4 separate regions of the Homo sapiens genome follow, and all the other regions are linked to region 4. The links come from fine-mapping of genetic effects on gene expression. A gene starts in region 4. Each other region holds a variant in brackets. All regions are shown on one strand. Distances are between the middles of the regions.

Region 1 (7,551 bases), 370 kb before region 4:
ATTCAGTTCAGCTCAACTGAAGTTCAGTTCAACAATGGAACCCCTATTCTGGTCCAGCCACTGTACCAAGCACTGACACTACCCGATGAATAACACATAGTTGACGTCCTCAAGGACCTGACAATCTGTGGGGGAGACAAACCACTGAAATGGGCAATTGTCATCTGAAGCAGGAGGTTTAATAATGATGATGTGTGGAAAGAAAGCCTCCTAGCACAACTTGTAGAAAAATGAGTTGGAGATGCCCAGAAAGTGTTCCCAATTGTTCCAGCATCCTTGAAATTTACCCTGCAAAATATGTGGAAGTCATCTGACCCATCTGACTATCTGATGCCATACAAAAGGATCATAGCAGAAAGCTAATGTAAGACTGGTGATTGTCTTGTGCCAAAACCCAGCACCCTGCTCCATAGGTAAATATGGAAACAAATGTTACTCTAGTTCAGTAAAGACAAACTCAGCCAAACTTTACCACTGATCAAACTCGTTTACATGATTCTATGTGTTTTATACTTAGAGATCCCCAAATAATTCCGAGTAGCAGTTTTATGGAGATTTACTATAGACTTCATCACTGAAGTGGTTTTTACCCTGTTTGCTCATCATTTCCATTTCTACTCTGATTACATGTTGAAATTCATTCTCCTTTTATAAAATCAAGTCAAAGCAGACATATACACGATTAGTTTTTGACTGAATCTCCATGAGAAGAACACTATAATGGCCACATCATAAAACAATGAATAGCTAAAATATATCAGGATTGCTTCTTAGGAATAAGTGCCTAAGAGCTTTGTGTACTTAATTTCAATTGTAATAATACTAATTGATAATTACTATTCTGCCCATTTTACCAGGAAAATAATCTGGTCTCAGAAAACTAAGAACCTTAGCCAAAGTCATCAGCAAGTAAGTTATACAAGCAGTATTGTGTCCTTGAATCTATACTTGTAACCACTGTGCTGCTGATTAGACAAAATAGCCATACCAAGCTGCTAAAGAAACTATTATGTTGTGTTTCCTTCCCAGAGCTCTTCTTAGCTTTAGTATTTTTAAAGATTTAAGTAGTAGAATGACATATCTAAATATAAAAGAAATTAAAATCCCTGTATTAACATAATGTGACTAGACATATTGTATGTCATATGCCTCTGATATTCATAACTTCGCAAAAGGTGCTAGGTATCTATTGTCATTCAGTTCCAGTCTTGGCATATTTTTCCAGTGAAGGGGCAGAGATCTCTCCACTCCAGTGTTCTATACTAAACTTTCATTTTTTTTTTTTTTGTGAGCCCAGACCAGAATCCCACAGACAGCATGAATGATGATTCATTCATGTACTCAGCAGATACCTATTAAGCAACTATTTGGCATGGAGACTGTACCAGTGAACAGATCATTCTTACCCTCCTGAGTTTGTAGTCCAGTAGAGAAGACAGATACAAACATGTACGTGGACATCAGTGTTTTAATGGCAAAGTACATACAACCATGGCTAGGTTGGCTTTCCTGGAATGGTGACGTAAAAGCTGAGCTCTCCAGTCTCAGTAGGAGTTAGCTAGATGAAGGTGGGAAAGATGTAGGAAAAGGGTAGAAACTATATTGAGAAAACTGAACATTTGAAGCTTCAAGGATGGAAAACCGTGATGTTACTATGGTCTGAAGTAGTCTGGTATGGTTGGCACTAGGACATCCAACCAAGAGAAGAAACCGGAGAGGTAATCATAATCCTAATAGCTGATATTCTTCTGGAATCTACCTATTTTAAAAAGTACTATCTCATAAAATATTCATAACCACCCTAAGAGGGAGATATTATTATTACCTCAATTTTTCAGATGAAATAACTTGATCATGGTCTTATCCAGTGAGTAAGCGGCAGAGCTTTGAATCAAAGAGCTCCAGTTCCAAAGCTCACATCCTCCACCAGCAACCACCGCTGCCTTCAGATCATGATGGGCCTTGTAAGACATAATAAGAACTCTAGTGTTTATCCTATAGGTCAGAATTCTCAAAGTATGTTCCCCACCCAAGACCTACTGAATTAGAAACTCTGGGGCAAGGCCGAATAATTCATGAGTTCGAAAACCCTTCAAGTAATTCTGATGTTCAATAAAGTTTGAGAAACTGTGCTAAGGGCAATGAGAAATCCTGTAACATTTTAAAGCAGAGAAATATGACTTAACCAGATGAGATTTTCTGAAAGCTGATCATTCTTTCCACAGGTGATCCCTTCAGAATGAAGACTCAAGCATCCTCATTGCTGCTCTGCACCCACAGTTACACACTGACTCCCCTTGAGTTACGGAGAATGAAGTTAAGAGTAAAGGCCATCCAAAGTGGTAGGACTAATGAGCTACGCAGCCTTCTATTAGGGAGCCCTAACCTGACTGCTAAATTGAAAGAGATAAAAATATCCTTTGTAATCTGATTGCAAGAAAGTGTCCCTAATTGGATGGTTGTGACTTAGATAAATTTTAATTTATTAGGCTTGCTTAGTTTTATGGGCAAAAAGTGTGCATATATAACAGTTGTTGAAATTTATCTTTCTCTTTGAATGAGGTATATTTTTCACTAGGAATAGTTGCAGTAATAATAATGACTAATATATGTACATATACTTCTTAATTTCAAAATATATTCCATGTATCAGAGTTACATAAAATTTTCACTTTTCTAGAAAGGGGCCAAATCATAATATGAATAAAAATATAGTAACTCTACCTTATTCACTGTCAACTAAAGAAAGAGTGCCACAGAATAGTAATCTTTAATTTGTAATCATTTTGTTTCTTTTCAACTAAATTACCCCCATTTCATTAACTTGTAGTAAAGTCTTCTTGCCCTACCAGTTTTTTTAAAATATTTTAATGACCTTTAATAATACTTTTAAGTATCATATTTATACTACTATAATTATATACTGAAATTTCAATTACCCTAGAAACCAGAAATTGTGAAAAACTTTTCTAAAAAGTAATGGTTTAAAAGTTGATTAAAATCACCAATATGAAAATGATTAATAGTGTACATTTTATTGAGGATATATTTGAAAATCTAACAGAGCCAATGACTAGTTTTTCATTTAACTTGACCTTGAAATACTCTTAAGGATACAAAATAAAAAGGACTTTGTCTGATGCCTGCCTCTGCCCCAAGGTGTAAGCAAAGAGAGACTTCCAATTTTGTCATATGGCCAGGGTTCAACATTTCAACATGCTGCACTTTATTTTTAATTCAAGGGAGAAAATATAGGCTTTAAAAAATGTATACAATTTTATATTAATGTCTTCTTGTGTTTTGTATTTAATGAGTCAATATCTCTTTAAGCTAACCTAACAATTTGAAAAAAAAGGAATTTTCATTCTCATTAGCTCATAGATATATACGATAAGCCAAAGAGAAGTGACCACTCAAGGCCACACATTTGCTTTCTTCTACCTGGAATACTCCCCACTCTCTCTCTCCTTCCTCCCACCCTCCCTTCCTACTAGCTCTTCATGACTCAGTCTTAACACCATTTTTTCAGGTGACCCTTTCCAGACTACTGAAATCTATCATCCCTTTCCCACCAAACCAGGATAGATTCCTTTAAGCTCCCATAGTTATCTGTCCCTCTTTATCTGTCCAACTTTTGTAATAGTTGGAATTAAAATAGTAAAAAATAGTAATTGAATGTCTGCATCTCTTCTAAGAGTGTAAATTCTAGTAGAACAGGAAGAGACACTTCTGACTTGTTCCTCATTATATCTTCAGCAAGTAGTATTGTGCTTTGCATAGAAGGGCTTCAGTAGATACTAGTGGAGGGAGGGTGAGAAGCGGGGAGGAAAGAGGGTAGGAGGGAAGGAAAGAAGAAAAGAAGGAAGGATGTTGCAAGATAAGAGCTCCAACAGAAAAAAAAAAGCACATATTTGTGTTCTAAGCTAAACTTTCATGTGACTAAATACCACTGTATTTGGCTACATGAACTCAAAATATGCTGGCTTAACCAACACCTCCAT[G/A]ATTAGGTGAATTATTATATGTTTATTAATGATAAGTGAATGGAGACATAGTTATTCACTTAAACACAAAGTGAAGTGACTAAAATATATTTTGGAAATCATCACATGAAAAAGGATATTTCTGAAGGAGACACATGGCATATACCTCAGAATGGCCAGAGAAAAACCACTTAGTTGTGGGAGAAATGGTCTAATCCATCCACACCACTGAGATGGATCATTTCCAAGTGGAGGCCTCTCTGATCTGGCTGTGGCTCCTGAAGGAGACATGCCTAAGATAAAGTGAAATGGGGATTGTGGAGAAGACACCTGTGTCTACTTCATCTGCCTGTTTTTGCCTAGCTCTACCAAGAGTGGACATTGCTTTCTATTTTTTCTTAGCTCTAAAATCAACTCCTGGAAGTTTCTGCCAAAGAGTCAACTTTTCACTCAAAATTTTGAGAAGTTTTACTAATCATCTATCAACCTCATTCAACAAATACTTACTGACCACCTACTGTGTGCCAGATAGTGTTCTAGATATTTAGGATATCTCGGGAACAAAATAGAATCAATAGACGTGGAGCACTGTTCTGAGACTGACAATAACTACTAAATATATAAATAGTACTAAATGACAGTAAGTACCAAAATGTATAAAATGTGATCTCTGCTCTCAAAAAGTTTACAATCTTGAATGGGAGGCAGGTAATAGTTGATAAACATAAAAATGGTGACCTACCACAAGGTAGCACATGAAGACTCAAACCTTTTAGATGTTGAATAGATGAGTTTTTGTCAGGGAAGAGACAACTTTGAATGTGGGGGTCAGGGGAAGCTCCACTAAGGAGCTAAGTCTTGAATGGGGACTCAGAGCCAAGTTTAGAAAAGCAGGGAAGGAAACTTGGGGAGAAAAGAGAAGTGTGGAGGCTCTCTGGAATCTCATGTATAAGAACTTTTCTTGAAAATTGTGTACTGTCTACATTTACCAGTTGAGCACCTGCTGTGTACTGAATAGTATAATAAACTGTGTGGTGTATGCCGTCAAAGAGAAATTGCACTCTCCAAAGTTTATGAACAAATAAGGAACTTAAAAAAATGTACATTAGTCACTAAACTACAAAGTAGAAAGTTCAAAGAGTCATAAATAAGAGAGGTGCTGAAAAAGTTCTATGGCAGTTTGGTGGAGGGAGACATTACTAATAGCTAGTGATCAGAGAAGACCTCATGGAAAATAGTTAGCATTCAACTGGGCCTTAAAATTTATGAACATGTGAAACGGAGAAAATGACTTAAACACAGAGTCAAGAAAGGAGCCTGATGGACTAGCAAAGAAATCAGAAATGGGAAAGTCATTTAAAAGGTTATTGCAGGGTTGGTATAGATGAAAAAGACCAAAATATTTTTTGACTGATTGACTTTAACTAGCAACACATACTTTCTTATTCTTCTACTATCTCTTATAAATTATTTCATTATAATATTTGAATCACCAAGTCATAATATGCAATTTTCTTTATTATTTAACATTTAGCATTTCCATCCCATTAGGAATTTTCTTGCTTGATTTTTATTTATTTATTTATTTATTTATTTATTTAATTAATTTATTTATTTGGACAGGGTCCTGCTCTGTTGCCCAGACTTGAGTGCAGTGGCTCCATCTCGGCTCACGGCTCACTGCAACCTCCGCCTTCCAGCCTCAAGCGATTCGCCCACCTCAGCCTCCTGAGTAGCTGGGACGACAGGCACATGCCACCATCACTGGTTAATTTTTGTTGTTTGTGTTGAGGTGGAGTTTCGCCATGTTGCCCAGGCTGGTCTTGAGCTCCACAGCCTCCCAAAGTACTGGGATTACAGGCATGAGCCACCATGCCTGGCCTGAATTTTTTAATCTTTAGGTATTTTTGAGTCCACATTCCATCATCAGATTTGATTACTGTCATCATGACTATTTAATATTATTTTTATTATTACAACCTGATTTTTGACATACATTTCCTTAAATAGTGGTTAATGCTCATTTTAATCTATTTTCACCTTGTCTGTTGAAGCCCCTGTATCTGCTTCATCACTGGGCCCACCTAGACTTAGTATGTTACATATATAGTTCTAATGATTTATTTTAAGCTGTACTGTATGTGGCGAGTTATTTATGTTAAATAATCAGAATAAAACAGTAAAATATAAAACACTGCTAGAATTGTATTCCAGCTATCTTATGTTCTATTTCTGATAGTTACACTAAAGAGAATTGTGTAAATTATCCTCCTGGTTCTCCTCCCTGAGGTCAACTTCAAAAGGTTAAGGATATACTCATAGTAGTATAGTTGTCCACAATAAATTCTGTCTACAAAAGGGGCTGAGTGTGTGCTACCTAAATGTTGGTGTGTGGTGTGAGAGTGACCTTGACCATGTGTGTAAGCAATTATTATTATTATTATTATTTTTGTCAGCGCACTAAAACTTTTGCTGGTCTCACAGTAATCATATTCTCATCTGTTTATGTCCACAATGGCAGGATATTTGACACCCAGAGCCAAAGTGGGAGGGACTGAGCACAGATTGAGCAGAGGTTTTGGTGGCAGAGGAGCTTGCTGCCTGAGTCCCCTCTGCCTCCTTTTAGCCCCAACTACTCACAGCAGTCCTAGAAAAGCTAAGGCAAAGAGTAGAGGAAGATATAGGATTCCCCACTCTCTTCTGTCTATCCATTCTTTAATTTAAAAAAAAATATTCATTGATTATCTACTTTGGGCTGAGGCCATAGCATGAGTTAAAAAACTTCTGCCATGAACCTTGACTGCATATCGTTTATAATTGAGTGGTGGTGACAAATATAAAATGAATCATTATAGGAGTCATTATACCATTATAATTGTGTCAAGTGCTACAAGGTGAAAGTGCAGAGTGCTATAGGAAAGCAAGGATAGAGTGCTATGCTTAAGCAGCAACCTGTTCCCCAGAACAGAAGAAAATAGAGGCAGTTTTGTTTAAGCATAATGATTGTCAGAATAAGTGATAAAATTTTATTTTCTTAGAATAAGTGTGATATAGGTAAAATTATAACAATGGCAAAAAATTTAGAAAACTGGTGGCTATTTAATAAACTATGCACAAAATCTTGTTATTCTAAAGGATGACAAGGAATCCATGGAATTTCCCCCTATAATCTTTTAATAGTACATATTCCACACAAAAGAAGGAATTTTCATCTGAAATCTTATGCACCTGTGTGGCTAGTCAATTATTCACAAAACATCATGGATCTGATATATATTTTCCCTACTTAATTTTGTTAGTCAATTTGTAATGCTAAATAAAATATGCACGAGAACCTTAAATTTAGCATGGCAGATATTTTCTGAACATTCACTTATTCACTTACTGTGGGCTATTTAGAAAAATCAGATGTGCACACTGATCATCTTAGCACATGTCCATCTGTCATCTAGAATTGCCAATAAATATATTGTTTAAATAGTTGTGGTTAAGAATAGAGACCCTGAGAATGAGAGAAGCTAGGAGTAGGTTATATAAATAGTCACAGAGCTACACCAAGATAACTTCCAGG
Region 2 (7,551 bases), 43 kb after region 4:
TTGTGCTTTTACCGGTGGTGTTTCCTGTGATCACTTGGTTGAAGAATTGCTCAATAGGTTTTTCTAGTGTAAACACGCCATTTTTCTCTTTTTAATTTATAAGTATTTATGGGTATATGTTGAAAGATACAAATATTTGGGTACCCCTCAAACTTTCACCTAATCATTTTAGTATCCTATAATGATGTATACCTAGATCAATTATTAGTATGATGATTGCCAAATACAGATTTTCTAATTCCACCATTTCTTCTACATTTATTTGTTTACTTTCTATAAGAAAGATTCTCATTTTTAATCTATTTTTTTCTTTGTGTTAGTATGGAATAATGGATTTTAATTTAATTCAAGAAAAAATATTCTATGAGGATTTATTAACATAATATTAACAAATACAATATTTATTAAGATATAATTTTTTGGTGCTCAAATTATATCAGATATAGCAAATGAGACTGCTTTAAGTTAGCTTACATGTCCCTTTGACATAGCTTGATCATTTTTAGGACACTTTCCTAGTTTCTGATACAAGATGGTTCAGGCTCATTCTCATTGTCCCAGCTGTGGAATCAGCCATTTTTCTGAGGAGCCCTGGCTCCATTTAGTGGAGAGTAACATTTCAAAACCAGAATCTGTGTAGTACGTATGTGGAACACCACACTTTGCTTTTTATCGTTTTGGTGTTTAAGCATCATTCTTAATAATAAAGAATTATAAATTATTTAAATGTTTATTAGAGGAATCAGTTAAAGAATTTTTGTGTAATTGAATACTATACAGCTGTTAAAAATAATGAGGAATCTATTGTAGTGATGGAAGAGGATCTAATGTATATTGCATTTGCGAAAAATGAGTTAGTGAACAGTTGATATAGTTTATTTTAAATATTATGTATAAGTAAATGTTCATTCAAACAGAAAAATTTTAAAATCTGAAAGTTTACACACCAAAGTACAATATTTTTTTTTAACTTCTGTCAGCAGGATAAGAAATATGGTGAAGTTTTCATTTCTTTATAGCTTCCTATAGCTTTTTTATATAAAGCATTTATCTTTTTAAAATTTAAACACATAAATCTAAATTCAAAAAATACAAAATAAAACAACAAAAACAGTATGGGTGGCAATGGCTTACAAAATAATAAAATTTATGAGGAAGTTAGGGAAATGACCTCATTATACCTTAGTAAAATTGCTAGAATTAGTCCTCATTAGTCAATTAGTTTATAATAATTGCCTCAGTCAGTAATCAATTTTCTCCAAGTCTCATTTAGTAGCCTCATCAGTTAATTGCTTTCATCTATAAACAAATTTTCATTTAACTGGGCAAAAACTTGTCATCATATCTCCATGTCAACGCTAATCAATGCTTCTAGGGTGTGTTTCACATCCATGTGGCCCACTCCTGATTTCAGCTGAAGCTATGAGGGGTGGTTCCATGCCAGCTCAGACTCACCCTGTCTTGGCAGTGACCAGCCCAAATCACATGCAGCATGCTTCCACACTCAGCCAGGGAATTCTCCCCGGAAGATTAAATGCTATTTTGTATAATGTGCTCAAGGAAGGACTTCTGGTAAGATGATATTTCAGTAGACACTTGAATTAAAGTGTGCAGATAGCTTGGGAATAACCTTTTCCAGGAAGAAAAGCAAATGCAATGCCTGGGGTGGCAGCATGCCTCTCTTATTTGAGGATCAGAAAGGAGGCCAATGTGGAGGGTAGTGATGAAGGACAGGATGAAAGATAAGATCCTAGAAGAAAAAGAAATCGTGAAGGAGAACAAGAGGTTAAGAGAAGGGTAGGATAATGAATATGGAGTTTATCTTTTGAGTTCAGATGAGTGAGATGATTTAACTTCTATTTTCAAATGATCCCATTGGCTCCCATGTGTGGAGTATACAGTGCCTAAAAACCAGGTGGAAGGGTTTCAGTAGGAGCCTATTGCAATAATCCAGATGAGAGACTGAGATGGTTGAGACTCTAGTGATAAAGGTGGAGACAGTCAGACTCTGGGTATGACTGGAAGGTAGAGTTCACACAGTTTGCCTATGGGATATGGCTCGTGAGAAAAGAGATGAGGCATGGATGATCTCAAGGTTTTTGTGTAAACATTGAGAGAAAGGAAATTTCTATACTGATAAAGAAAATATGAAGATAATAGAAGACTTGACAGAAATTCACATGGTAGGTTTTCTCATGTTAAGTTTGAGGTCGTTATTTGACATGTAAGAGGAGAGGTTGAATACATGAGCCTGGAATTCAGAGGAGCAGCTGATGCTGAAGATCACCTTTATGAGGTTCACAAGTTGTTCATTTGTGGTTAGTATTTGAAGTCATGGAACTGAATGAGATTACCTAGGATATAATTGTAGAGAATGTAATGGAGAGGGGTCCCAGGATTGACTCAGGCACACTGTATCATTAAGATTCAGCTTTCTTATTTTTGTCTGGCCTGCTGACATGCCATCCAGACTGAGGAAGACCCAGAAACTTTTGGGCTATGTGAGCCACGGCCACAGCTGCACTGTAAAAAAGTAAAGCACTGGAAGCACCCAGGAGGCCGTGGTAAGGCTGGTGGCATGCATCACACAGGATCAACTTTGACAAATATCACCCAGGTTACTTTGGGAAAGTTGGCATGAGGCATTACCACTTAAAGAGAAACCAGAGCTTCTGCCCTGCTGTCAATCTTGACAAATTGTGGACTTTGGTCAGGGAGCAGACATGGGTAAAAGTTGCTAAAAACAAGACTGGAGCTGCTCCCATTGTTGATGTGGTATGACCTGGCAATTAAAAAGTTCTGGGAAAGGGAAAGCTCCCAAAGCAGCTATTATTGTGAAGGCCAAATTCTTCAGCAGAAGAGCCAAGGAGACGATTAAGGGTGAAAGAGGTGGGGTGGGGGTGTGGGGTTGGGGTCTTGGTGGCTTGAAGCCACATGGAGGGATGTCCATTAAATGCTAACAATTGAAAAAGAAAAGATTCAGCTTTCTGATAAGACTAATCTGCCAAGCCTTAATAGATAGATTGGAGCTGTTGCTGCTCAGGATGTTGCTGTTCTTGAAGAAGAGAAAAGACACATGGCAAAGCATGAGCTGGCTCTTAAAGCTTGCACTCATAACACACACACTCACTTCTGTTCT[C/T]ACTTCATTGGTCAAACCAAGTTTCACAATCACTTTCAAGTGCAATAGGCAGGGAATGTATAATCTTCCCACAGGAAGGGTTCTGCAGTGATGAACATTGCAGGGAGGGAAACAAGAATATTTGGCAAACAGAAATGTAGTTCACTAAAGAAATAAAGATATGACATTGGAAAGCTTTTGTCTTTCTTGTCTAATATAATGACTGTAAACTACTGAATTTTTTTCTTTGCTTTTCTCATCATCTGATGTCTTTCTCCATTTATGCCCAAGGAACTATGTCTCAGCAGCCAAAGTTCCTAATTAGTCTTTTAATTTCTTCTTAGAGTTCATCCCAATTGAGAGTAAAGGCGATTTCTAGAGCTGGAGCCACTGACATTTCTTGTCATTGGAGGGTTCTTATCATGGGATCCTCCTGTACAATAGTTCTTTAAATTTTTTCCAGTTGAGGACCTTGCTATTTAGGTTTACTCTCATCTAATACCACTTATTCCAGACCTAAGCTACCATTAACCTCTGCCTCTATCTCTTCTTTGAATCCTCTGATGGAATTTTTAAAGAAGCCACAGATTTTCTCATAGTTGCAACATAACAAAAAGAATACATGATGTGTTTAAAATTGAAGGAGATCTGCCTTCACTGATGTTCTGGTTCACTGATGTCACTACCTAGCCTTTCACTTGAAGCAAGTAATTGACCTTCAAAGATTTTTCTCATCTGTAAAATTGAAATAGTTACACCTACTGTATTAGTCTGTTTTTACACTGCTATAAAGATACTACCCAAGACTGGGTAATTTATAAAGAAAGGAGGTTTAATTGACTCACAGTTCTGCAAGGCTGGGGAGGCCTCAGGAAACTTACAATTATAGTAGAAGGGGAAGCAGGAACGTCTTGCATGGCAGCAGACGAGACAGCTCATGTAGAAAGTGAAAGGGAAAGAGCCCTCATGAAACCATCAGATCTAGTGAGAACTCACTCACTATCACGAGAACAGCATGGGGGAAACCACCCCCATGACCTAACCACCTCCCACCATCTCCCTCCTTTGACATGTGGGGATTATGAGGATTACAATTCAAGATGAGATTTGGGTGGGGACACAACCAAACCATATCATCTGCCTGGTAGCACTGTTCTGAGGATTGAATTAGACAGCACATGTAAGGTGCTTCATAAATTCTAAAGAGGAAAAAAGTTGGTTCATGTGGTTGTCGCTATCATTCCAGGATGAGTTAGGAACACACAGTCATGCATGTTATTGATTCTGGAATGAGAGAAATAGGAACAGGTCTTATGAGGCCCTAATATGTTGCTTTTATTAATATTTTCTAGTGAAGGTATTGCATGATGAAATAAATAGATCGGAATCTTCTAACAAGCTTGTCTGGAATTACCATACTGAGTACACAAAGGATCTCACCATAATAAAATGAATTTCTCCTTGTCAAGGTTCTAGTTCCTTGTCTACCACTGGGTAGAGTGACTCTGGTAGAAGCAGCCTTTATGTTGGCAACCTAGTCTCTGGTTAGCATCATAGTAACTGGTAAGCTTCTGAGGTAACTAACCCACAATGATAGGGGCTTATTTCTTCATATTAGGATTCAGCTTTCTGATAAGACCAATATGCTAGGCCTTAATGCACAGAAAATGCCAGCTCCTAAAGATATCAAGTCTGCATGTATTTGGAATTTAATAATTTTTATACATATCTTCAAATTTTCCACCACATGAAATAATAATTCTAAGATATTGGCATGCCAGAAATAATAGTAATCAAACTTCACTGAATAACATTTTATTTTTACAAAGACCTTTTCCATCCCATTTGGTGCTGCCAAGGCATTATCTATACAAAATGTGTATGGATTGGGAAGAGTATTTCCACAGTTTTTTTGCTTAAACCAAAGAGGAAAACATCTGGTCAAACCCATTTATCACTACATTTTCTCTGTAGTATGAAGGTATTCTTGGCCATATTCTTGGCTAATTTGTTCTTGCCAGTAACTCAAAGGGTATAAAAAATGTAATAAATTAGGAAAGAACCGAAATTCTAAAATTTCAGTAAAAACACAGATACACCTCTAACTTAGAGACTCTAAAAATGGAATATGGTATGTAATGGGTAAGAGATTTCCTTCTTTTTTTGAACAAATTTTGAGGGTTGGAGATCTATAAAAGATGAAATTTAAAAAGAAATAACTCAAAGAAAAAAGAAAATGAGGAAGCATTAGTAAAAAAAAATCAGTATCGCTGTATAAAGAGTTTTCTGATTCATCTCTTTCACTTTAAGAGACGCAAAAAAAGAAAGAAGAAACTCAAAAATAATCTCTAATTGAAAAGAGAAACACAAACATCTAGAAATAATGTCAGAAAGATTAAAACTCAGAATACATTTGAGAGTTTGAAAAAAAGTTACTAAATGCAGCCTAAGTGACTTCTTAAGCTATGTTGGGAGCAGGAAGAAGAGTAAAAAGAATGCCTTAGACTCTACATTGGAGACAAATGATCTCAGGTCTCTAGAAGTAACAATATCCAAAACCTGTTTTGATTTCATATTTGCTACAAAAGGGCAAAATTTCCAAATAATAAGACAAATCAAGTTAGAGAAGCAATCATAGACCAATATATGTAAGGAGGTAATCAGAAAATAACTAAAAATGAATTTGAGTCTCTATATGCAGATAAAGATTCCTGTCAGGATGGCAAAGAAACTTTCATCAATTAGCTACTATCTCCTGTTTAGCAATATTCCAAACCATCATAGAGTCTTGTATAGGTTTCTGAAAGCTTGGCACCTAATAATGTCCTTCTTCCAGAAAAATATGAACCTATCTATCATGAAATGGTAGAACAAATTATTATGTAAAGGACTCATATTTAGAGAAGAATATACATTTTTACATGTCTTTTTAGGATAAAACATTCAAAAATATGTTACCATATTTTACCAGTTATTAGATTGGTGGGAGTGGAATGTTAAGATTGGTGTATAATGTTTTCAGAAAAAAGAATTACCTCTCATAATAACCTTATGGATATGCTGGTTATGTAAGCAGAATCATAGCCCAGAGATTACTTTTAAATGTTGGCTTGCTTTGTTTATCAGGGACATAGTGCATGTCAGGTTAAAGGATATTGAGAACCTTCCTTTCCTCCTAATGCTGTCTGGATTTCAATGGTAGTTCGTGGTGGTAAGATAGAGCCTACTTTTTTTCCTCAAGGTAAGCATGAGTCCTGCTGGTAGATGCAATAGTATAGAGGAGGAAGAATTGGATTATGTTCTAGTCTTAGCTGTGCTGTTTGGTAGCTGTATGACCTTGCAAGTATCCCTATCTGTAAAACAAAGATAATAATGCCTGCAAGTCCATCTTATAGGTGGCTGTGAGTTTACATAAGACTGTAGTATTAAAAGGCTTTATAAAGATTATCTAAGGACAAATATGCAAGATAAGGGTATCACTCATATCTCTGTTTCAATCTGGAATGCAGGCAAACAGGGAAGACTGGAGAGTTCCTTTCCTCAATCCCTACTGATCAACACTTTCATCAGTGGAAATAGAAGACATAATTATTAGATTCTAAGAGCTTGGCAATGGTTGACTCAAGATTCAAAATTTTATTGCCCAACTTTATACTTCCAGGCAAAAATATCAGACCAAAACAACAAGATGAAATTTGGCAGGAATAAAAGTCTGCAGTCTAGACGTGGAAATGCAAATATGTAAGTACAAAATGGGAGGAAAAAGCAATCAGACAGCAGTTCATGTGAAACAATCTGGAGTATTTAGTTGACCACATGGTTAATAAGAATATTATGGAAAGTGTAAATCCCTTCATTCTGAGATAGTCAGATAACGTTGGCGCAATCCCTGGAATGTACTAGATACATGGAAAAGTTACTTTGCTCAATTCGGCACCCTCTTCCCCTTTAATTCAAGAAAGACATCTACAATCTGTTATGGGACTGGCAGATGCTGGCAGTGTCAGAAAACTATGATCTATGGGAAATGTTGAAGGAACAGAGACAGGTTAAACTTAGGAATCAGACTAGTGGAAAACCTTAATAGCTGTCTTCAAATATCTAAAGGACTGTCAAATGTTGTTACAGGGATTATTTTCACTGTGTCATTCCAGAGAGCAGAGCAGGAATCAGCGGGTGAAAGCAAAAAAGAAGGCATATTGTTGGCTCAAAGAAACAACTTTATGATAACACCTCAATCTGTACAACAACCGGAAGGACTGCTTGGTGAGAAAATAAGATCTCTATTGTTGGAGGTTTAAGCCAAGTCTGGCTACAATCTATTACAACACATTTCTGCTTTGGGCTGGTGTCTAAGGTCCTTACCACTCTCAGGGTCTGTGATTTTATTAGATATTTGTCTTTATTTCCAAGACTATTATATATCCAAATGT
Region 3 (7,551 bases), 540 kb after region 4:
GAAAGCTTGTTACATAAATTGGCTTATTGACAGCAACAGGGGTAACAGGACCCCAAAAAACATAAAAGTAGGTAGCAGCATTTAACTTCCGAAACCAAAGGATTGTAATCATTATAACAATTAGGCAGGTCAGGGTTGCACCCAAGAGAACCTGAGCTGAAAAGAGTTATGGAGGTAGTTAATGCAATACAATATCCCAAGTGTCATAGAAATGCATAACCAAAAATGGTACTATCCTAGTTCTCTGGCCCTGTGTCATGTGTGTAGGAGAATTTAGATATCATGTAGAATACCAACTGACCCATTTCACTGGTAACTTTTTATTGGTTGGGCCAGATGAGCAAGCGGTGGCTGGTATACGTGAGGCCTCAATAAGTCATGCGTGCTCTAAAGGGAAGGAAATAAATTTTAGGGACTACCACAACCATAAAATGTTTAGGGGTTCAATGGTTAGAGGTGTAGCAAGACATCCTCTCCAAAGTAACATACAAATTATCATAGCTTGTACATCCACCGTGGATAAAGAAGAACCACACTGGTAGGCTTTTTCCATCTCTGAAATTGGTGCATTCCACATCTATATTCAGAATGATATAAAAGACTGTCAGCCTTAAATGGTGTACAGAGAAGTAAAGAGCTCCACAACAGGTCCAAACTGCTGTGCAGGCAGCCCTCGCACTTGGACCATATGATCTGGCTCGCTCTGTGGTGCAGGCAGTATCAGTGGTGTGAAAAGTTGTCATATGGTAAGTCCAAGTGGAAGAACCACAAAGTAGATCCCCTGAAATTTTAGGGCAAAGTCTTGCCATCTGCAGTGCACAATTATACATCTTTTGAAAAATAATTCCAGGCAGGCTAGTGAGCTGTGGTAAAAATGAAATGCCTGACTATAGTTCACCAAGTGAACATGTGGCCAGAACTGTCCATCATTAGTTAACTCCTGTGAGACCCACCAATTTATAAGTTAGTGTAGACCCAGGAGCAACCCATCATAGTATGAAAGTGACTATGCAAAAACAGGGTTGGAATCAGCCACTGAACCCTTCCCTCAGCTGATTTTTATAGCTGTATGGGGGATCTTGTATGACCCATTGAAGAAGGAAAATACTTCTAAAAAACATATTAGGTATAGTGTACCTGTTCATTAATTTTGGATAAAATTAGTGAAGTTATAATGTATTCAGACTCTTGGGCAATGGTAAAAGGCCTATCTGACTTTTCAGGATTATGGAAGGAAAACAAAGTTTGGGGATGAGGAGGCTGTGTTAGATATATGGGATGTCTATTAGATGGATATATATGGGATGTCTATGAAATGGGCATATGGGAATGGGCATGAAATGGGAATATACATGTCATATGTCAATGCTTACAAAGGAATATCAATCACAGAAGACTCTAATCAACTAAGTACACAAAATAACTCAAGCAGTTGGTGTCAGCCAACCTCTGTATTCAACCTCCCCAGTGTTGACTAAGAGAAAAAATGAATTAAGAGACCACAGTGGCAGAAAAGGAGATTATGCATGTGCCAATGCATGGACTCCCACCTTTGAAGTCCAATTTAGCTGCTGAATTTCTACCCTACCAACACCAGATATCAGTGTGGAGCCCTTGATGCAACACCATTCTTCAAGGAGTCCAACCAGTCGTACAAGCCACCTCCATTATGGAAGTGCCATTCTTTTATGCTCACAGGACTAGATTTAACATGTATTCCAGACATGAATTTGCTTTTTCTGCCCAAAAGCCTTAGTCATCATTCTAGCTGAGGGATTATGAAATTTCTGATCCACTAATATGTAATCTAACACAACACTTCCTCAGACCAGAAGACCATTTACCACATAGGAAGTGCCACTGTGGGCCCATACCATGACATTCACTGGCTGTATCACAAGCTCTCTCCAGATGCTGCTAGTCTAATAGAGCCTTGGAATGGCTTGCTAAATGAGTAGCTAAAGCCCAAATCAGAGGCAGTGCTCTATGAGGTTGGGGTGCCATTCTCTGGATATGCAGTATTCACACTGAATCAAAGGATTTTGTGCAGCTTTGTGTGTCTGATAAGAATGCAAGGGCTCCAGAACCAAAAAGTAGAAGCAGAAATGGCTCCTGTACTACAGTAAATAAAGATCCTTGAACTTGGTGCTTCCTGTCCCTGCAACGGTGCTTTGTAGAGTTAAAGGCCCTGATCTATAAAAAGGTCACAATTTCACCAGAGGACAAAATAAAAGCTCTGTAGAATTATTAGTATGACTGTTGTCTGGAGATTTGGGGGAAAAAAGGAGTCACCATATCAGCAGGAGTAACTGAGTTAAATCATTAAGGGTTAGGACTGCTGCTATACAGTGGAGACAGTGAGAAATACATGTGACACTCAGATGATTTGGTTGAGTGCCTCACAGTAATCCCTTGCCCAACTGTAAGTGTAAATGGACAGATCCAGCAGTGCAGGCATGAGGAGGACATGGTAACCATAGATCAGACTTCTTGGGGAGGACAGTCTGAGTAATGCTACCAGACACATGACCAAGGACAGCAGACATAGTGCCTGATGGTGCAGGACCTAAAATGACTAGTATAGGAGAAATAAAGTAAATAGCAATATTGGTCCTGAGATCAACCATAGCAGAGCAACTGTAGTTAGTTCTGCTAATTTCCTTCTTTTCTATTTCCCCTAAGGAAAAGTGGCCCACCAGAATCCTGGAGGAGCTGTTACTCAAATATATGTGTATACAAATGACAAAACAGGTAGACTATGACAGATATAGAGATGTGCCACCCAAATCCTCCTTCAAGTAAGGACTTGCTGCCTTGGGGTTGCCTCAACTGATTAGTCATCTACTGCTGCTTACAAGCTATCCCCAGAATTTAGCAGCTTATAAAACAAGAATTTTATCTCAAATTTATGTGCATCATGAATTAGCACATGGCTTCGCTGGTGCCTCTCACTCAAGTCCTGTCCAGGATTGTAGTTCAGCTATCACCTGGGGGCTGCAAGTGTATCTGAAAGGTCTATTGTGTGTGTTGGTGTAGAGGGGCTACTTCCAAGCTTACTGATGTGGTCCCTCAGGTTCTTCACAATGTGAGCCTCTCCAGTGGGCTACCTCACAACATGGCAATTGGCTTCCTCAAACTGAGTGATCCAAGAGAAGGTGTGAGAGGAAGCCTCACCCAAGATCATGGCCTTTTTAGGACATTCTGTGACTGAGACACATTCTGTGACTGAGTAAGCCCTGGCTAGAAAGGCCCAGACACTTCACTCTGGCATGGGTCACTCTGACCAATAATACCTTGAAGCTCCATGACAGGTTGGCCCAAGCATCGTCAGGCATACATGAC[A/C]CTCAAATTCTTCCTCTGGCCAATCCTGCTTCCTCTTTTCTTTGTCTCACAAGAATTGAGCCCTAATTTTGTATTTCAAAGTCTATCTCTGTGTCTGCCCATGGAAAACCCAATCCTTTTCCTTCCTGGATAGTAAAATTCACTAGGGGAGGGGAGTATTTTATTAATTTCCTACCCTGGCTGATTGTTTTCCTTCTGGGAATCTCCAAGTCCTCTGATATGGTTTGACTCTGTGTCCCCACCCAAATCCCATGTCAAATTGTAATCTTCAGTGTTGGAAAAGAGGCCTGGTGGGAGGTGATTGAATCCTTTGGAGTTCCCCCTTTAGAAGGGATGTCCCCTTTGTTGTTTTCATAATAGATTTCCAACCAGATCTGGTTGTTTGAAAGTGTGTAACACCTCCCCCTTCCCTCTCTCTCTCTTTCCTGCTAGCCATGTGAAGATGTACCTGCTTTCCCTTCACCTTCCACCATGATTTTAAGTTTCCTGAGGCCTCCCCAGAAGCAAAAGCCTGTACAGCCCACAAACCATGAGATGATTAAACCTTTTCTAATACTCTACTTCCTCGTCACTGGCCAGATCTAGAAACTAAAGGACAGGAAGGGCCGTTCTCTCCCATACCACAGATGGTCTTGTTCTATTTTTTTCAAGTTGGAGGGTACCTCCTGGCCTTATATGTAATTTGTGTGTGTGTGTATGGAGGTGATAGAGAAATTGGGGAGAAGTGTTCAGAGACTTTCCTGGAATTAAGGAGTCCATGTTACTCTTACTAATTTACCCTAAAGACACAAACAACTTATAGTTTTCTTTTCTTTTAATTTTACCAAACTGACGTACTAAACAAATAATGTTATCATATTAGAGGTTTTCTCATAAAAGTGCATGGAAATTGTTAGGAGGCATATCCAATGAAACAAATAACTTGGTTTTATTTTTGTTTTTGTTAATAATCTAGTGATTAAAAAATTTTTAAATTTGGAATGCACATACTACTTATGTTCCATCTAAAAATATATATTCTTCAATAAAATAAGAATTCTCCAATTCTCTGAAAAGTACACAAATGATCAAACACAGTACATACAATTTAGAAGCAGAAGCATAATAAAAATGCAAATTAATTCAAAGGTCCATAATGAGATCATTTGGCCATATGGCCACTAATGAAGTTTCTAATTGCTAGAACATCAACACCCAAGTCAGAAGGCAAAGAGGAAAAATTCTACTGTCTTTTAATTTCCTTAAAAGATTTTGAATTTTAAGAAATATTTTCCATATCTGAAACATTTTTACACCAAAGTGTATTGAAAACCTTGCACTACATGGAGTTTAAAAAAAAGTTTGAATTGTAAATAATTCTCCATGCTGTAGGATGAATAAAAAATTAAAATGTTTTATCCATAATTTAGCATACAAAATGTATGCCAACAGGGATTCTATAATGAATAAAATTAATTTATTCATTCATCCAAGAGATTAATTAGCATCTATAATGTGCCAGGAACTGTTCTAGGCACTGGAGAGATACAGCAGCAACCAAAACACATATAAACCCCTGTCTTCATAGAGTCTTCATTCTACTCAGGGAGACAGAAAGTGAAATAATACATTTAACAATAATAAAACTAGTACATTAAATAGCAAAAAGTTCTAAAAATAAAAATAAAAGCAGAGGAGTGATATGAAGAGTAGGTATGGAGATATGTAAATGGTGATGTTTAAATTCTGTGTTGAGAAAAGATCTCACTGAGAAGACAACTTGAGTTGATTTGGGCTTCCTCCTGGGGAAGAGCCCTCAAGGGTGGAGGCAACAATTGCAAAGTCCCTGAGGCAGGATTCAACCTGGCACATGTAAGAAATAGCAAGGTAGCCAGTGTGGCCATTGAGGAGTGAAGGAGGGTAAAGTGTAATGAATAGGTTCTGAAAAGCAATGGGGAGGAGGGGAAGGTCATATATACCTTTAGGCCACATTGGCTTTACTCTAAGGGAGCAGAGAAGATTTAGAAGGGTTTCATGCATAGATGACATGGCAGGATCTTATTCAGGCTTCAGCAGAATCACTCCAGTTGATGTTATGAGTAGTAAAAAGAGGCAAAATTAGAACCAGGGAGGCAAGTTCAGAGCTATTGCAATGATAAAGGTGAGAGATGATGGGGACTTGTCCAGGACGATGGCAGCAGTGCTGGGGACAAGTGGTCATATTCTGTAGTACACAGGATTTCCCAAAGGTCCAGATTAAATGGTGTGGTTTTTAGTGGTAAAAACCATAATACTAAAATATCTGTACTTGCATTTTATAAAACATGATTTATAAAAAATCATGGTGCTAAATTTGTCTGTGACCTTTACTATCTGTTGGCTTGTTTTGCTCATTTTAGCAGAGACATATTTCTGAAGTTTAGCACTTAACACTGGCCTGTAGATGATGTCTTATTAATGAAGCTTTTGATTATGTCCTAGTTTGATATTGAATAATAAGAATAAAATGTTCAAGAATCTATAAACTTTTGACCTATTATCATGTTAAAGATGGTCCTTGGAGGAAAATACTATTGAATACATTCTTCACCCGAGTCAATTCTAGGTAAGTAGAAATTAACTGTTAGCTGCCAGTTAAGGAGCAGAAAAGGGGCAGGGCAGAGAGCTGACTGTATTTACAAGGGGCATTTACACATTTTTACTAACACAACTACCCTCACCCCTCAAAGGTGGAATCTTTGACTCAACGATTGTTCAAATACCCAGCAAAATTTTGCTTTACATTAAAATCCTCATCATATTTGCAGAATGATCAAACTTTATTTTTCTGATTGAAAAGAACCAATACATGTGACAATCTATGACAACTCTTTGTGAAGTAACCTAAGGACCCTTAAAGAGCCTTAAATATCCAGCATTTTTCTCTAGTATTCTTCTGCTAGTTTTCTGCATGTTTTCCCTTCCCTTTCCTCTTATTCTCTCCTGTCCCTGGACTCTACCCATGTACTATTCCTCAGTGCTCAAGTGACGCTTCCTCCATGAAAAATTCCCCATTTTTTTCCAATCAAAAAGGAATCTTTTCCCCTCCTCTCCTACCAGTGTCTATTTCTTTTGTTTCTCTCTTTGCCTTTTAAAATGATTAGTATCTTCCTTCCCTTTTCAATTCCTACCACAGCCATTATAATATAATCTTTCTACTCTCCAGTTTCCAGAACAGTGCCTTGTGAATGTTTTTTGATTTTATTTCATATCTAGTGGGCCTGTGTTTATAATTAGATCTAGCCAAAAATGAATGCCAATTCTTCAAACACTTAGCATTGTGGTCGATATTAGGAATATTAATGCCAATTGTATTAAGTTAGCTCACTGATGATTCTGGAGGAGAGCCTAAGTAAAGAAAGCCAAATTATTAGCATTTTAAAATGGCAAGAAAAGAGATAAAGACTAATGAGGTAAGAATAAAGTGAGGTAGTCATTGGACATCAACCAGAAAAAGTAGATTCCCCAAACAAGAACAGGAAGCAAGCTCTGGACTAGTCTAAACATGGAAGAAAAAAATATAAAAATAAAACTTTGTGTACAGGATTTAATATCAGGAATATCAAATAAAATTTAAATATCAGAGAGGGAAAATGAAAAACATTAAAATTAAAATGATTCTAGAGATGTAAGAAGATGACAGAAACAAAAAGAATGAGTAAAGTAAGAAACTAAAGGCAGTTCATTCATTGTCCAAATAGCATCCATGGATATAAAAAATCAATTATGTGTTTGAAACATTTGTAATCAGTTCACTGTGGAATTTCATCTATGGAATATCTTTCCCAAAATAGAAATATAATCCTGATCATGAAAAGTTGAAGTCAAAGTCAAAAACATATCAGTATGCCATATTTTGGAAGTAGGCACAAAATTCCTGGAAAGAGTTCATTGCTGTTAATGTAGGGTAAACTAAGATGAACCTCTTTAAAATAAGTTGAAGAAATGAGCTAACATACAGCATCGGATTATCAGATCAGATTCACATGACTCAGAGGTCTTAATGACAGTTTTACTATAAATAATTACTAAAATACAAGAGATTCAAGAATCCCAGGTGAAGCAGAACAAGGTCTAGGACATCAAGGGTGGTGAGATGTACCTCTAAATAGATAAGCTCTGGAAAGGGGGCTTTTGAGTTCCTTAAACAGCGGGACCTGTTTAAGCTATGATATGTCTCCATTTCGTGTC
Region 4 (7,551 bases):
ACTAAAATGAATTCCCACAATTCCAATTCATTTACTGCTTTTCATACACATATTCCAACCACCAAAATTACTAAAAATGTTCCCAAGCAATTAGGACATTTGCTTAAAACGTAAATAATTCCAACAATGCATTCTGTAGAAAACGACCACTAAAACCATTAGCTTAGCCCATAAAATTTGTCCTTAAGGCTAGTAACTGAATAAATCAAACAGAACCAACTATATGCTTATTTACTGCATTTACATTTTGTAACACCACATTCAGCAATTTCTAAATGTGGAAGGTCAGTTCAGATTGCACACACAAGCAGTAACTTTAAAGCTTAGCAAAATTTTAGAAGTTTCTTCAGTATACTTCTGAAAAAACACCCTCTACAGAAATACATCAGAACAAAAATCAGCACCATTCATATGAATATCAGAAGCACAAAATCAGTATATTCATAAATCCACAATGTATACTTATGCTAAAAAGTATTTTTTCTCCCAATTTTATCTAGTTCACCTTCTACAATTTTTGTTTAATGCACTTGCAAAGCTGTAAAGAAGCAAATGTTGTCTCCTCTGCTGCACACATATCCAGACAATACATCAATCTCTTGGTATTTTTCCACAATTTGAAACCAAAACAACAAAATTCATTTCTTACCTGCAATTAGGAGGAGGATCAAGGGTTATTTCAGCTAGCTCCTTCTGAATTCTGTTAGTGAAATGAGAAGAGACAAAAAGGATTTGATATAGTCTACAGAATAACCAGGGAATTACACTGCCCTCTACCACCATGCAGTTAAATGCAAGGCTGGCTCTGCCTTCAGTAATGCTAACATGGCTGCTTCCTCTTTGTTCTCAGAGGCATAACCCAAATCCCTTAACAGAAACTTTGCAGCTTTTTTTCTCACTTGCTGCTGCAAACAAGTAAGTCATTTACACTTGATTGGAGAAATACTCATCCACTAGTACTCAGTAAAGAATATAATATCTATTTCAAAACACTTTTTACCAAAGAAATTCTCTTTTCAAGCTTATATGCAAATGAGACAAAAAGGGAGGAGGGAAAGCACTGGAATATTTGACAAGGACTTGAAGTGACTTTTACTGAGGTAAAAATTAACAGGCTACTGCAAGAGCACATTAACAGTTCTGACAATATTTTATCTGTCAAAAAAAAAGTTTAAAATTTACAAATATCTTTACTTGTGAAAAACTTTCAAAGACTACTTGACATTCTAATTTAACCATTTCTGTTTTCCCTGATTTTAGGTACAGCACTTAAATTTAATAAACATTGAGAGAAAGAGGAGAAAATACATAGGCCTGAGTTAAGGGGGAGAAAAGCAGTTCTCTGATTTGATTCAAATTTAAGATGATTTCAAAACTTTAGATGTGTCTAATATGTTCCGCATCAACACTATACCAAATTGAGAATTTTAAATTATGTCAAAGACTGCTGCCATTCAAAAATATTATCAAGTTATTAATACTTCATTACTGAGACAATAAGGGTGAAAATCCATAGAAAAATATGAGTATTTATGAATCACCACAGAATGCAATATTTGATCAGTTTTTATATTCTTTTTCCTTTAGTTATCAATAAAAATTAACAAAATGTCAAAATTGGTTAATGCTGTAAACATTATACATTTTATGTATAATTACTAGAGTTTGTGGATATTCCACTACTACTACCACTGATAAGAGTCTCATTGACAGAATCTTTTTTTCTCCATCAGAAAACATCAATCAATAGGAAACAAATGATCTTTCACTTACATCCAATTAAATATGTTTCTCCTGCTGTTGAGTATTAACTTGTCAAGCACATCCACAAGTTTCAGAGTGAAGAGGCCCAAGGACAATGCAAGTTTTCTATCACTAGTGACACCTCAAATTGTAAAGGGCTACTTTTCAGTTTGATTTGCCCTCACAAGCACAGGAAGGGATAATCATAATTTAACCAGGAAAGTTACCTGTGATATACGATTGAAAGTCATGTTTTGTAAAACTGTAAGCAGATTTGCAGCACAATTTTAAATCTGCTTTCAAATATAGCAAAGGCCTGAATTTGCAAATTTTCTAGCAAATATGATCATTTCTGATCATTAAGTTTCATGAAGAGAGGCACTGCTAATCTCTGGAAGTGTCAATTTCATTAAAGAAGATTATGACTCATAAAAGGAACATCCCCAAAGTACCATCTAATTTGGGTTCACCAAATTTTCCTTGCCAACTCCTTAAACAATCTGTCAGAATGTTAGTCTAATCTCTACTCAAGGACACTCTTAACTGAAGTTACCGAAGTACAGAATTAAGTTTGCTTAAAAGTATAATTCTAGTAATGTTGCTTACATACCACCTAAAGAATGACAACTCATTCAAGTACAATTAAACTGATAATGAAGTAAATATTTCTGAACTACTGCTATTGAGGTAAAACCAACAAAAGCGTCCAACCACCTGGAAGACAACCTGACAAAGTGTGCTGGATCCTTCTTTTACACATTACCTTTTAGCACTAGTGGATAACTTAGCAGTGGTTTTGCTAGAGAGTTTGGTGTTTTTCTTCTGCTGGGTGGCAGAAGGTTTTCTTTCCTCTTGTTCTTCAGGCTCTGGAGCGGCTGGGTCTCGCTGGTCCGCATCTGAACTGCCACTGCTGGTGCTGGGGCTCTCATCATCGGACCTTTGCCTATCACTGGACATCTTGGTGAAGTTATCTCTTGGAAAACTTTTAAAGAGAACAGGGGAGGAGGAGGAGAAAATGTTAAATCTAGGAAATAAACCAACAGCATTTTCTTCTAGTCATCTAAAATCGTCTTGTAATGAAAAAGCTTCAAAAGTGTTCACACTTATTTCATCGTACAACAGGGGTACGTACAAGGGAGGTGATGTGTCACACAACGCCAGCGTTAAGGGATTTGCCGAACTCAAGTTAGAAAACCCACTCACATTTTTTTCCGTCTCTTGGACAATCTATCAATTGTCTACTTTCTCAGAAGGCATGAAACAGATTTGCCAAGGAACTTAGGCAACAAGCATTAATAACATATGACACACTGTAAATAACAGATCTCGCTGAAAAATGTTTAAAAGTCACTAATAACGTCTAAATATTTACACACTGACATTGGTCAAAGCTACCAAATTCCCTTTCCGAGAGGAAAACACACCCTGTTAATCGCCCATATGCTTATTTAAGGTGGCGATTCCTCCTCAGTGCACGTAAAGCCTTTAAACACAACACTTGGAAATTTAAAAATCAACTAACGAGCTGCTCTAGCTGTTTCCACGGCCAGCAGCGAAGATTCATCCGGCCAAGACCGAGCTGCCACCCTGGGAAAAGCAGAATTCAAACTGCACCTTCTGCAAAGCTCCCAATGCCACCAAGGTTCCTCGCTCAATTTTTATATCACGGACCGACATTTTGTCCAAAATAACGAAAAAAATAAGAAACCCAGAGAAAAAACAAACAAATAAACAAAGCCCCAAGAAGTGCAACAAATTTCCGCGCCCGCGGAGGCGAGCCACGGCCGGCGGCGGCGGCCACGCAGCTCCGCGGCCCTTTGTGGGGAGGGCCGCGCGGGGGCCGCGGGTAGCGCTCGCCGCGCCGGGCGCCAAGTGATGCGAGCAGCCCAGCCGGCCCCGCCGCGGCTCGCGGACACCGGCGACGCGGGCGCCCGGCGCGAACAAAGCTGCCCGCCCCCGCCCCCTCCCCCACCGCCGCCGCCGCCCCGGCCGCCCCCCACGCGGCCCCCCGGCCCCGCCGCCTTACCTCGGCCGCCCGCCCGGCCCGCTCGCGCGCCGCTACGGTGTGGGGGAGGGAGAGAGAAAAAAACCCTTCCTTAAGGAAATGGAGGCAGCTGTGGGGGGGGGAAGGGGGGGGAGGGAAAAAAAGAAGCCGAGGAGGCTCTGGCCGGGGAGTGTGGAACATTGAAAGTCGGAGGGGGTTGTGCAGTGCCGGGCTCCGGCCGGAGGGTGGCGCCGCCCAGCGCCTTCGGAAAAAAGCGGGGGTGGGAGCTCGGCTGGGCGAGGGCGCGAGCTCCCGGCGAGGCGGAGGGGACGCGGGAGACCCCCGCGCGCTGTAGCCTCCCGCCGCCGCCGCCCGGCTCGGCTCCTCCCGGCCGCGCAGTCAGCAAGTTCCGAGGCGAGCGCGGGGGGGAGGGGCGGGCGCGGCGGCGACGCGCGTGCTCGCTGCTTGCCTGGCGGAGGGGCGCGCGCCGCCGACGCCCGGCGGGCGCGAGCTGTTCCCGCGCGCTCCCGTGCGCGCTCTCCACACCTCCCCTCACCCTGGGGGTGCACGCGTCCGCCCGCGCGCGGCCAGGACAAAGAGCGCGGCGGGGACCCGGCGGGCTGGCCCCTGCCGCCCTTGGCCGCGGAGCCTGTGCCAGAGAAGGCGGGGGCGCGGGCACCGTATCGCGGGGCCGCTGTGCCGCGGGGTGGCTTCCGGCCTGGGCCCGCCTCCGGGGCGAGGCTGCCCATTGGGCTACCCGCGTCCCCAGGGCTGGTTCCATCCCATCCGCCTGCGCGGGGGCCGTCGTGGCTCCCGGGGCCCCAGTACCTGGGCAAGGGCCCTGGGCGCGTGGTTGGGAGTCCCCCGCCGCCCCGGGAGACGGGAGACTAATGGGTGTTGTTGACGAGGCCAGGCACGCAGGCGGAGAAGAGCTGCCACTTGCCCCTCGCGTAAGCTGGAGGAAGGGACAAGTTGGGGTCCTGGGAATTGAAGAGGGTAGAATGTATTTGGAGATTAGGGGAACAACCTCTATTTCTTTTTGGCTCATAGCTTGCAACTGTCGCTGCCAAAGGGAAGTGTCCTTCGGATTATTTGAAACCTTAAAAATCCAAAACAGTGTTTAAAATGTCCCGCTCAACATTCTTAAAAGTGAAGGAGAAGAGTTTGGGGTTGGGGGGTGGCGATGAGAGCTAAAACATGACACTTTTCTGCGGGACTCTTCTGTCTTGCACATGAGGAGCCAGTTCTGGAAAGAAAAGTTCTGAGTGATGTTGAGTCAGAATGTCCACCCAGAAAAGCTTTAGGTGGAGATAGTGACAGTTTTGTTTGTTCTACCATTCTTTTTGCAGTCTCCAGGTGGACTCTGCGGTTTTTACCCCACGGCACAAAGTAGCCAGAATACAAAAACTTCCTGTTTGCCACCCAGGCCTTCTCCAGCTACTGAGAACTTGTTCCGGTGATGGAGCCTCAAAGGAATTTGTGGATTCCTCTCCCACAAGTGTCCAGGGGCAGGGGTGCTGTGAGAATGTGCAGTTCACAAAGGGAGTGAGAATGGCAGTCAAAAGATGTATAGAGTTAAGGGAAAGAAGAAAAGACTGAGTGAGCCAACGTATTTGCTTACTATTTCTCCTAATAGAAAACTTTTGGTAAAGGCTTGATAGCAACTCTAAAGAGTAAGTTACATTTCCATAATTTTCCAAAGACACAGTCATTCAGTTAACTTTATTGAGGGCTATATGTTGCTAGGTGCTGGACATACACTCATTCAATTGCTGTGTGACTAAAGCCAGGTCTCTACTCTGTGCTAAGAGCTCCTAGTCCAGAAGGGGAACAGTTCATTAAAGTTCGCTAGGTTCATAAGTAGTAAGGATATTCCACTCAGAATGAACAGATAGAATATCTCATGCCTCAAAAAAGATCATGGTCTGTGTGTGGACAAGCATTTTGATTTGGCTGGGTCAAAGAGTGCTTGTGGGAAAAGCTTGTTAGTGAAAATAAAAGCAGAATTTTCCCCCAGCTTTACACGATGTGATGTTACAGCAAAAGCCAGCCAATTTGGAGTTGAAGCTTTGCTTTGTTTGGAATGGGGAGACAGAAAAGGAAAGCTGTACGTTAAACATGGGTTCTTTTAGGAAATTTAAGAACAGAAATAGCCTGAAGGCCCAAAGGCCAATTGCTGATAGGATTTAGTGGGGTAAGGAGCTTAGGGGAGAAAGATATTTAGTTGTTTGGTAACATCTTCTACAGAAGAAATAGTATTGGGTTGAAAAGCCAGGGAAGTGTATTCTAATCCTCATTCTACGAAGTTCATATGACCTCAGGCAAGTTAAGTTATTTCAATTACTTTTATGTAAAAGGAGATTGTATCAAAGGTTCTAAGTCCTCTCCTGCTCAAAAATTCCATGATTCCGTGATTCTTTGGCGAACTTGAAGTCATGGAGTTTAACTTAACATTCACCCAACAGAATATTTAGGATCTACTAACTGCTTGGGAAACTGGAGTGAAACATGGGTCATGCTCTTAACCAAGCTCAATTGTGCAGTGGGGCAGCCAGAAACGTAGCCTGCAGAATGAGAAGTGCTGTATTAAAGAAGTAAAGAGAATGAGAAAAGAGCATTACTAATCATCAATTAACTAATAATGGAACTATTAATTCAGGTTGGAATTGTGGGGCATGAGGTAAAGGTCAAAGAAGGAAACATTAGATTGGTCCTGGAGAGAGCACTAGGGCCAGTGATAATGTAGATAATATAGATAATGCTCTTGGCAAAATACCTGGAATTTGGGTGTTCAACAAATAATACCTATTGTTAAAGTCACCGTAAAGATAATGAATGGCTCCATAAGGTTAGGGGCAGTAGTGCCCTGCCCCTACAATGTGAGGTGCCTGGCTGCCTTCATTCAGCTGACTCAAGGGGTTGCTCAAATGATTTCAGCTCACAGCTCCTCTCCCAGGTGACTTGGCATCACCTCCACCAGAAGTAACTTGTAAGGTGTAAATTGTTTCTAATGTTTAGTTCTTCCTTGTGTGACAACCTGTTTTGTAATTATTTTTTCTCTCTTGTTTTTGCTATGTCAATCCTTGAAATTAAGGATCATGTTTCACAGGCACTCTTGGAAGCATACAAATTTGACCTAATGCAATTATTTCATAAAATATAAAAAGGGCCCTTTTCCCATAAGGTCCCTCAGAATAGTTCCACAAGCAGACACCAGCTACCACAAAGAAGATTGTTTCCTCTCAGTCTCTTTTATTTTCTCTTGTTGGTGTGGGGTCCTGCCAGCCTCTCACAACCCTGAGAAGGGCAGTGGTAAGAGGGAAGATGCCGAATCCAATTGCAGTATTACAATGATTATCTCTTATCCCCTTATCCACCAAATGTTGTGACAAAAAGAGGCCTGCCTAAGGGCAAATAAGGCAGACCCCAGAATCCTTTGCACCTCCCTAGTTTGGGAGATGCTTTTTCCTGCGCCTTTCAATGAGTCTCAGTGTTATCTGTGTACATAACTGTGAGTATGTATAACTAAGAATTTCACAGGATCTATCACTGAGTTACCTAAGAAGTTTCTGAATTGAATGATTATGTAAGCTGGGGTATAGACCTCTACTTATCCACCATGACCAGCAGCATCCCTCACATGTAAAAAATGTAGAATAAATATGAATTTATTTTGTTGATTTTAAGGTACTTTGTTTCCTTCCAGTCAATAACTTTTCTAAGAGTCCCTTCATTTTTACTGGCTGTTTCTGATGCTTTCCAGTTACTTGTATCCTCAGTTCTCTGGCTAAGAAATTTTCTTTCTCTACCCATAAAGACTGGAT

Alleles and levels. Alleles are on the strand shown, and positions count from the first base shown. SD is a standard deviation of normalised expression in the study named. Not every link is listed here.
In carriers of allele A in region 1, the expression in gastroesophageal junction of the gene that starts at base 4,138 in region 4 tends to be higher than with G alone (small effect, 0.32 SD a copy in GTEx).

What was found. PIP is the estimated chance that this variant, and not a neighbour inherited with it, causes the effect. A credible set is the group of variants that fine-mapping cannot tell apart.
Region 1: its variant is the best candidate, but not a certain one, in a credible set for the expression of UBE2E3 in gastroesophageal junction (GTEx, PIP 0.76).
Region 2: its variant is the best candidate, but not a certain one, in a credible set for the expression of UBE2E3 in lung (TOPMed, PIP 0.58).
Region 3: its variant is the best candidate, but not a certain one, in a credible set for the expression of UBE2E3 in whole blood (INTERVAL, PIP 0.55).

What each region holds. Positions count from the first base shown.
Region 1 is chr2:181,348,618-181,356,168 of GRCh38, reverse strand. All of the region lies in intron 3 of LINC01934 (long intergenic non-protein coding RNA 1934), which reads right to left. Among named protein-coding and RNA genes, the nearest start is that of MIR4437, 47 kb to the right of the region's middle. The variant G/A (reference allele first, on the strand shown) is at 4,002.
Region 2 is chr2:180,934,207-180,941,757 of GRCh38, reverse strand. It overlaps the pseudogene RPL27AP3. Among named protein-coding and RNA genes, the nearest start is that of UBE2E3, 43 kb to the left of the region's middle. The variant C/T (reference allele first, on the strand shown) is at 3,140.
Region 3 is chr2:180,438,313-180,445,863 of GRCh38, reverse strand. No RefSeq gene overlaps it. Among named protein-coding and RNA genes, the nearest start is that of SCHLAP1, 250 kb to the left of the region's middle. The variant A/C (reference allele first, on the strand shown) is at 3,343.
Region 4 is chr2:180,977,192-180,984,742 of GRCh38, reverse strand. UBE2E3 (ubiquitin conjugating enzyme E2 E3) reads right to left here and starts at 4,138. Exons shown (of 6, transcript NM_006357.4): 1 at 3,770-4,138; 2 at 2,507-2,725; 3 at 650-700. The coding sequence starts at 2,700. It overlaps UBE2E3-DT (UBE2E3 divergent transcript), which reads left to right and starts at 3,731. Exons shown (of 2, transcript NR_187176.1): 1 at 3,731-4,677; 2 at 5,077-7,413. RefSeq lists a silencer at 3,861-4,720.